Homo sapiens: one gene and its partner. The protein of the gene in region 1 purifies or fractionates together with the protein of each later gene. This does not show direct contact. Each region holds a gene or a part of one and is shown in the gene's direction. Other genes may lie near its edges.

Region 1 (4,516 bases):
GGTCTCGAACTCCTGACCTCAGGTGATCTACCAGCCTCAACCTCACAAAGTGCTGGGATTACAGGCGTGAGCCACCGTGCCAGGCCAATAAATATATTTTAAATATTTTTTTGAGACAAGGTCTCCCTCTGTCGTCCAGGCTGGAGTGTAGCGACACCATCACAGCTCATTGCAGCCTGGACCTCCCCAGCTCAAATAATCCTCCTATTTCAGCCTCCTGAGTACCTGGGACTACAGGCACGTTCCATCATGCCCAGCTAATTTTTAAAATTGTTTTTGTAGAGATGGGGCCTCACTCTGTTGCCCAGGCTGGCAGGCTGGTCTCAAACTCCAGGGCTCAAGGGATCCTCCCGCCTTAGCCTCCCAAAGTGCTGGGATGAGAGGTGTGAGCCACTGCACCCGGCCAATTTTTTTTTCTTCTTTTTTCTTTTTCTATTGAGACAGGGTCTTGCTCTGCTGCCCAGGCTGGAGTGCACTGGTGCGATCTCGACCCCCCAGGCTCAAGTGATCATCTCACCTCAGCCTCCCACGTAGCTGGGACTACAGGAGCTTGGCACTAGGCCCCGGATAATTTGTTTGTTTGTTTGTTTGTTTGTTTTGCGACGGAGTCTTGCTCTGTCGCCCAGGCTGGACTGCAATGGCAAGATCTCGGCTCACTGCAACCTCCGCCTCCTGGGTTCAAGCGATTCTCCTGCCTCAGCCTCCTGAGTAGCTGGGATTACAGGCATGCGCCACCGCGCCTGGCCAATTTTTTTAATTTTATGGATAGTGTATTTGAAAAGTCACATCGATTTTTCTCCTGGAATGTCCTCTAGATGTGCCGTAGCTTCAAGTTTTACATGTAGGTCTAATTTAGGTTGTGTGATACAATGGGTTTGCATTTAGAAGGGTCCTCTGGCAGCAGCAAGGAAGGTTTTCGGAGGGTGATAGCCTAGGGCCTGAAACTACTGAGACTTGGAGAGAAGTGATGGTGGCTTTCACTAGGTGATAGTAGTGAAGGATATCGAAATGAATTAAAATACTGGGGATGTAGAATGACTGGACTTAATGGCTTGAGGGAAGTGTCCAGAATGATTCCTGGGTTTCTTACGCACAACACTGAGGGTAGATAACTTGCTTGTACGTTTTTTGCACTTCAAATTGGTCCTCAATAAATAGTTTTTCCTTTGGGGAGGTTATGATTGAAATTTGGCCAGTCAGGGATACAGTTTTCTCAAACAACACTCTTGTATCAGTTCCCTTTTTGGGTACTGCCTGGAGCCCAGTATTGAACCCTGTCCTCCCAAGCCCAAAGACCTTTGCCTCCCATAGTACCAGGAAAGGTGCCCAAGTTCTTTTACACACAAGGTGCGCAGAGCGGCCAGCGCATGCCCAGAGAGGTCGTAAGGAGGACGACCGCCCGGAGAGAAAGGACGCACGCTTCCCGCCATTTTGTTCAGCTTGCCGGGCAACCGGCCCCTGCTGGGGACTACAAGTCCCGTAAGCCTCCGCGGCGGCACGTCCTACCCTACACTGTCCAGCCGGCTCCCTTTTTCCCCCTCCCCGGGGGCCAAGGGCTCCGGCTGCTGCCTGGCGGCCAACGGGCCAGGTAGGATTTCCGGGAGAGGCTGCTGTGGAGGCTGAGGAGGCGGCGGCGGAGATCTGGGTAAGTTCAGCGAGCAAGGGAAAGTGAGCAGGACGCGCTCAGTATCAGGCTGCGGCCTCCTCTCAGGCTGCGGCCCCTTTCTTGGCTCTGCGAGAGGGTCCCGGTCCGGGCAGAAGGTAACGGCCCGGGTCGCCGTCGCTTCGGGCCAGGGCGGGGCGGGGCCGCCGCCTCCCTCCTCGGCCCTCCCACAACGGTCCAACCCGGGCTTCTCCGCCTGAGGCAGGGCCCGCGCAGGCTCGCCCTCTCCGCCCCCCGAGACTTGGCTGGGCCCTTTTGTCTGGGCTGCGTTGCTCCCCCTTTGTGTCCGTGCATGGAGTCTCCGCCACGGGGGAGCCTGTTCCCCCGGTCCCCAACAGGGACTGCTCCCTGGGGATCCGGTTACAGTAACCGGATCGGGTCAAAGTACATTTTTCAAAACCGTCCTGCCTCAGACCTCTGCACCCCTGCTGGGCAGAACGGGGGCTTCGGAGCCAGGCGGAGTTTCTGTAAAAACCTGGAGGTTATTATTTAACTTTCAAACATCAGCCTGGGCGGCTTCAGGGCACGAAACTCCCGACGTTTTTCTTGGTGGAGAGATGAGATTAAGGAAAAGAAGCGACCCCTCTCTCCCACCCTCTACACCCCGGCTCCGGGAAACCGGGAAGGCATCGAATTTGCTGCGATGTCTGTGCAGCTCACATCTGTGATCGGTGGACCAAAGAACCAGTGGTGAATGGTAGAATGGCAGTTCACGCACCTCCCAAATCTCGGAGGAGAGTGACTTACAGGGCATCACTGATTGCTTGCAAAAAAAAAAAACCCTCCAGTGCTTCATTCGGACACTCAGCTCCTCGCTCCTTCCAACCTCTTCCTTTTCTTGTTCTTTTTAAAACAAACAGTGGAAGGAAAAAGTCCTTCAGTGGAAGAATTTGCTTTATAGAGGAACCAGAAACCCAGTGGCTTCTAGAAGTCACTTACTTTTTCGCCAAATTAAAGAAATGAATTTCGGGCGTGGTGGCGCGCGCCTGTAATGCCAACTATTCTGGAGGCTGAGGCAGGAGAATCGCTTGAGGCCAGAAGTTCGCGACCAGCCTGGGCAACACAGCAAGACCCCATCTTAAAAAAAAAAGGAATGAAGCCCGTTTAGAAATGAAGCCAGTTTAGGGGATGAGGTGTGGTAGATTCTTACCGGAAACCGCGGAACTGCGTGGATTGTGGATTCGATCAAATTTGGCTAGATAATGGTAACTGTGTATGTCCTCCTGTTGGAAGACTGCATTGCTAGAATCAGCTTAAGGTAAAATTTGTTTGTTTGTTTCATTTAAGAGACAAGAGTCTAGCTTGGTTGCTGAAGCTTGAGTACAGTGGAGAGCTCCTAGTTCACTGTAGCCTCGAACTTCTTGGCTTAAGCCATCCTTCCACCAGAGGCTCCCAGATGCCTGGGACTAGAGGCATGAGCCACTGTGCCCGACTATTTAATTTAATTTATTTATATTTATTTATTTATTTTGAGACAATCTCACTTTGTTACCCAGGCTGGAATGCAATGGCACGATCTTGGCTCACTGCAACCTCCACTTCCCAGGTTGAAGCGATTCTCCTGCCTCAGCCTCCTGAGTAGCTGGGATTACAGGTGTGTGCCACCATGCCCAGCTAGTTTTTGTATTTTTGGTAGAAACAAGGTTTCACCATGTTAGCCAGGCTGGCCTTGAACTCCTAACCTCAGGTGATCCACCCGCCTCGGTCTCCCAAAGTGCTGGGATTACAAGCGTGAGCCACCGTGCCTGGCCAATTTTTATGTATTTATTTTTTGAAATAGGGTCTCGCTGGGTTTCCCAGGCTGGAGTGCAGTGAGTTGAGCACTGCTCACTGCAGCCTGGACCTCCTCCTGGGCTCAAGCCTCTGCCTCCAGAGTAGCTGGGACAACAGACACAGGCCACCAGCGCAGCTAATTAAAAAAATTTTTAAAAAAATTTTTGTATTGATTGGGGTCCCACTCTGTTGCCCAGGCTGGTCTTGGACTCCTGGGCTCAAGTGATCCTCCCTCCCAAAGTGCTGGTATTAAACCTTAAGATAAAGAATACTGTATTTGTTTTTTGAGATAGAGTCTTGCTCTGTTGCTCAGGCTGTGCAGTGGCGTGATCTTGGCTCACTGCAACCTCTTCCTCCTGGTTTCAAGCGATTCTCCTGCCTCAGCCTCCCGAGTAGCTGGAATTACAGGCATGTGCCACCACTCCCGGCTAATTTTTTTTTTTTTTTTAGTAGAGATGGTGTTTCACCGTGTTGGCCAGGCTGGTCTGGAACTCCTGACCTAAAGTAATTTACCTGCCTCCGCCTCCCAAAGTGCTGGGATTACAGGTGTGAGCCACCGTGCCTGGCCAATAAAAAATTCTAAAGAAGGTCATTGCAAATAACCCTTTTGAAAAATAGGTTAATTCGTGTTTCAAGTCTCTGGGATGAGGACAGCCAGGAGGACCCCTTTACATGAATCAGGGAAGGTTACTGAAGTTAGATAGGTTAATTCCTGCCCTAGCCGAGTAGGCAAAATAAAGCCCTTCACCCTGTATTACTTTGTTTGATATCTCATAATGGAAGTGACTTACTCTTGAGAATCCTAGATTGTATTAGTAATACTGTATAGGGATGGTAGATCCTTAATGCAGTTCTTCAATTTTTAATCCAGCAGTGAGTGAGGGTCTTTTGTGTTTTCCTGGCTATAGTTTGAAGAAGCAACCACAGAATTGCTCTAGTTTTAATAATAAACTGGTTGGGCGCGGTGGCTCACACCTGTAATCCCAGCACTTTGGGAGGCTGAGGCAGGCAGATCACCTAAGGTCAGGTGTTCGAGATCAGCCTGGCCAACATGGTAAAATCCCATCTCTACTAAAAATA
Region 2 (3,812 bases), on another chromosome or scaffold:
TGTCCTAATATTGTAACTGTAATGCAGCAAATTAGTTGCCTGAGTTAAAAGAAAAAAAAAAATCAACCCTTGGCCCTTAAGACGTCTTTTAATACAATGATGTGTTAGTCAACCAAATGATGACCTCAAATGGCTCTGGCCAAGGCCATGTGTGTTGTTTTCCAGCTTTAAAAACCTACTTGCGCGCCTCTTGCCAACCTTCCTCCAGTGTCAAAGTGTCATCTGCAAGGACTGTTGTCTGATTGTTCCTGAGGGTCGTAGGCTTTTGGTGGGATCTTAATTCCATTCTCTTTGATGTCTTTAGCTGTGAAAATTAAGAAGCCAATCAAGACGAAGTTCAGAATGCCAGTGTTTAACTGGGTTGCTCTGAAGCCCAATCAGATCAATGGCACAGTCTTCAATGAAATTGATGATGAGCGAATTCTGGAGGTATTTTTCTCATTGGTTAGAAACTAGAGGTGCACTCTGTGCAGCAAAGCCGGCATGGGTGTTCTGTTAACCTGGAAGTGTCAGAGATAAAGTACTAGTGTTTTAAGTCCCCTGATGTAAAGAAGAAACATGTATGTAATATTGGAGAATAACATTTGACACTGTTTTGTAAGGTGGCTCTAAAACTGTTCAAAGAGTTATGTTAAATTGGAATAAATGCTTTTGAGCATCTTTAGTGTATGCCACAGAATATAGATCTGACATAATAATTCCTTCCCTTAATTGAGAGAAAGACATAAAAACTTTTGGACTGCAAGTGAGCTCAATTATCACACTCACTGCCTTATCTGATGGATAATTTTAATCTGTGGCAGCTGTCTGTGCAAGCTAATTATTGAAAAGTAATTGAATTAGTGGGTTAGAATCGGTAGTCTAATGTTCACTTATTTTTTTATTTTATTTTATTTTTAAATTATTATTATTATTATTTTTTGAGACGGAGTCTCACTCTGTCGCCCAGGCTGGAATGCAGTGGCGCAACCTCGGCTCACTGCAACCTCTTCCTCCTAGGTTCAAGCAATTCTCTGGCTTAGCCTCCCAAGTAGCTGAGATTACAGGCACACACTACCATGTCTGGCTATTCTTTGTGTTTTTAGTAGAGAGCGCATTTCATCATGTTGGCCAGGCTGGTCTCAAACTCCTGACCTTAAGTGATCCACCCGCCTTGGCCTCCCAAAGTGCTGGGATTACAGGCATAAGCCACCACATCCGACCTATGTTCACTTTTGTGTATGTGCCAGAAGTTGTACTATAACAAAAACAAGAAAAATAGAGGAAGCCATGGCCAAAGACAAGTACTTAATAGAAAAAGTGACGTTTTTGCTTAAGAAACTAACTGGTGGCTTCCGGACTTCATTTTTAAATATAATCCAATTTTCCATGGTCATTCCTCTCTATCTTAGGATTTAAATGTGGATGAATTTGAGGAAATATTCAAGACAAAAGCCCAAGGACCTGCCATTGATCTTTCTTCAAGCAAACAGAAGATACCACAGAAGGGATCAAACAAAGTGACATTACTAGAAGCAAACAGGGCCAAAAATCTTGCCATAACTTTAAGGAAAGCTGGAAAGACTGCTGATGAAATATGTAAAGCTATTCATGTGTAAGTTCAGGAAAATTATATTCTAGTTAGTTTATGATAAAATGAAAATGAGAAAGTTATGAATTAGTAGATGACAAATATTTCAATAGTGAGACAAGACCTAAGATAAAAGCTGGAGCAATTTTTGATATCCACACTTGAGAGATCTGAACTCTGTGTGTGCTACTTCAAAGTTGAATATGATGCCAACACGAAAGAGGTAGACCAGAAATCACCCTGGGGAGTGTTGTATTAGAACCAGTAACTAATTGTTTTAGAAGAATAACATCTGGATTGTGACATCATTTATTATCTGGGTCTACTCTCTTATGCGGGCCTCCAGCAATGCTTACATAAAAGGAAAGTTGAGCTGAGCGTGGCAGATGTTAAGAAAAGGTAGAAAATGTCAGTTTTCTCTGGAGTATCTGGATTTTATCCAGATTTGTTGAATACAAATTTGATGGCATTTGTGGAATGATACAGTTCAATGCCAGATGCAAATATGATACAGATGCATATTTTAATTCGTAACAACAGGAATGTGAATTGTTTTGCTTTCAGTACTTTCAGGACATTTTAAACAAAGTTCATTTTTTACTCTTGAACTGCATAGAAGGCATTGGTTTTACTCCTCTATTAGAAGAATCCTTCTATTCTTCTTGTGGCCATGGTGACTTTCAAATGTGATGAAGACATTATTAAATGTTTTAGGAACTAATTATTTATAAATTGATTATCTTATACATTTTGGTTAGAGGCTTCGAGGTGTAAATGACCCTAAGAAATCCTTTGTTCCAATTTTGTGTCCTCAACCAGGGTCATAATCTGGTAGTCCAGTGCCTCCTACAGTCTGTTCTGATTTCTGTCATTGAATCCTGAAGTGCAGCCTGGCTTTAAATCTTTATATATCTTGTTTGTCATGATGATTAAATGTAATTCTATTATTTAGCTGAACAAAGATTGTCCAGAGAATAATAGAGAATAGAGACTGTAACAAATACTTCATTTGTTCAAATTAAGCATATATCCAAAAAGAACTTCAAGGAATGTATGCACTTAACCTAAAACATTCAATAATACAGGCATTTGGATGCATTTTTTTCCAAAGAAGAAAAAATACTACCAGACTATTGGTTTAATTGAAATATTTTACATAATTCACCAGATATTCTGTACTAATGTGTACAGTGTTAATCTCCTGAATTAGCTGTACTTCACAATGCCTGTCAACTATGTGCTTGAACCATGAAACCATCAGATGCTTTGGCCTTGGTTCTACCTCTTCCTATTTTCATTTACTCCTGATTCCAGAGGCTTAGAGCTATGCCAGTACCCTAAAAACTGAGGATGGCAGTTGTGACAAGGTCCACGTTTTCAGGAAGAACCAGTTAAGTTACCTGAGGCATAGTCAAGAACCAGCACCAGGGTGGGACTTCACAGGACAGCTGGAGAAATCTTAGACTCGTTGATTTGGTGTTTGATGAGCTGTACCAGATGGATGATGGATGGATGAACCTGAAAAGATGGATGAACTTGAAAAGGGGGTAGGAGGTTTTTCTCTCTAATGCTAATCTCTCCACATCTGTCTTTAGATTTGACTTGAAGACACTGCCTGTGGACTTTGTGGAATGCTTGATGCGGTTCCTACCAACTGAGAATGAAGTGAAAGTGCTTCGGCTCTACGAGCGGGAAAGGAAGCCTCTGGAAAACTTGTCAGATGAAGATCGGTTCATGATGCAGTTTAGTAAAATCGAGAGGCTCATGCAGAAGATGACCATCATGGCCTTCATTGGGAACTTTGCTGAAAGCATTCAGATGCTGACTCCTGTGAGTGGACTGACTCTGGCAGGGGAGGGGGTCCAAAGAAATGTGGAATCGTTATTTTTTAAAGTCTCTCCCAGAATCGTACTCAGTGTGATGGGTTCTAAAGACTCCTTCCCAGAACTTTCTAAATTGCATTTTTATTTCAACCATCTTTTCCACATTATGTATGCAAAGTAAATTTGAAAAATGGGGAATGTTCATATTCCATATTGCCATTCTTCCGAAAGAATGCCATTTTTTGTGTCTACAGATGTTCTCTAGATTTCAAAAGGACAGGGGACAAAGAAACTTGGTTCTTTTCTCAAACTTGGTTCCTCTCTGAAGATACTAGTCTTCTGGCAGTGTTGGCAAGACTGAAAATAAGACTTTCATTTCTAAAAATGTTGCCTCATCTTTAGTGAGCAGACTTACAAGC

Evidence for each region.
Region 2: the proteins of PHACTR4 (region 1) and FMNL2 purify together in Homo sapiens (affinity purification with western blotting, with the first as the bait; one study listed by BioGRID). This does not show direct contact.

The regions. Positions count from the first base shown.
Region 1 is NC_000001.11:28,368,181-28,372,696, forward strand, and holds the start of PHACTR4 (phosphatase and actin regulator 4), read left to right. Parts: upstream 1-1,559; 5' UTR 1,560-1,645; intron 1,646-4,516. UniProt on the Homo sapiens protein: Regulator of protein phosphatase 1 (PP1) required for neural tube and optic fissure closure, and enteric neural crest cell (ENCCs) migration during development.
Region 2 is NC_000002.12:152,625,134-152,628,945, forward strand, and holds part of FMNL2 (formin-like protein 2), read left to right. Parts: intron 1-304; coding exon 305-429; intron 430-1,391; coding exon 1,392-1,594; intron 1,595-3,165; coding exon 3,166-3,400; intron 3,401-3,812. UniProt on the Homo sapiens protein: Plays a role in the regulation of cell morphology and cytoskeletal organization. Required in the cortical actin filament dynamics.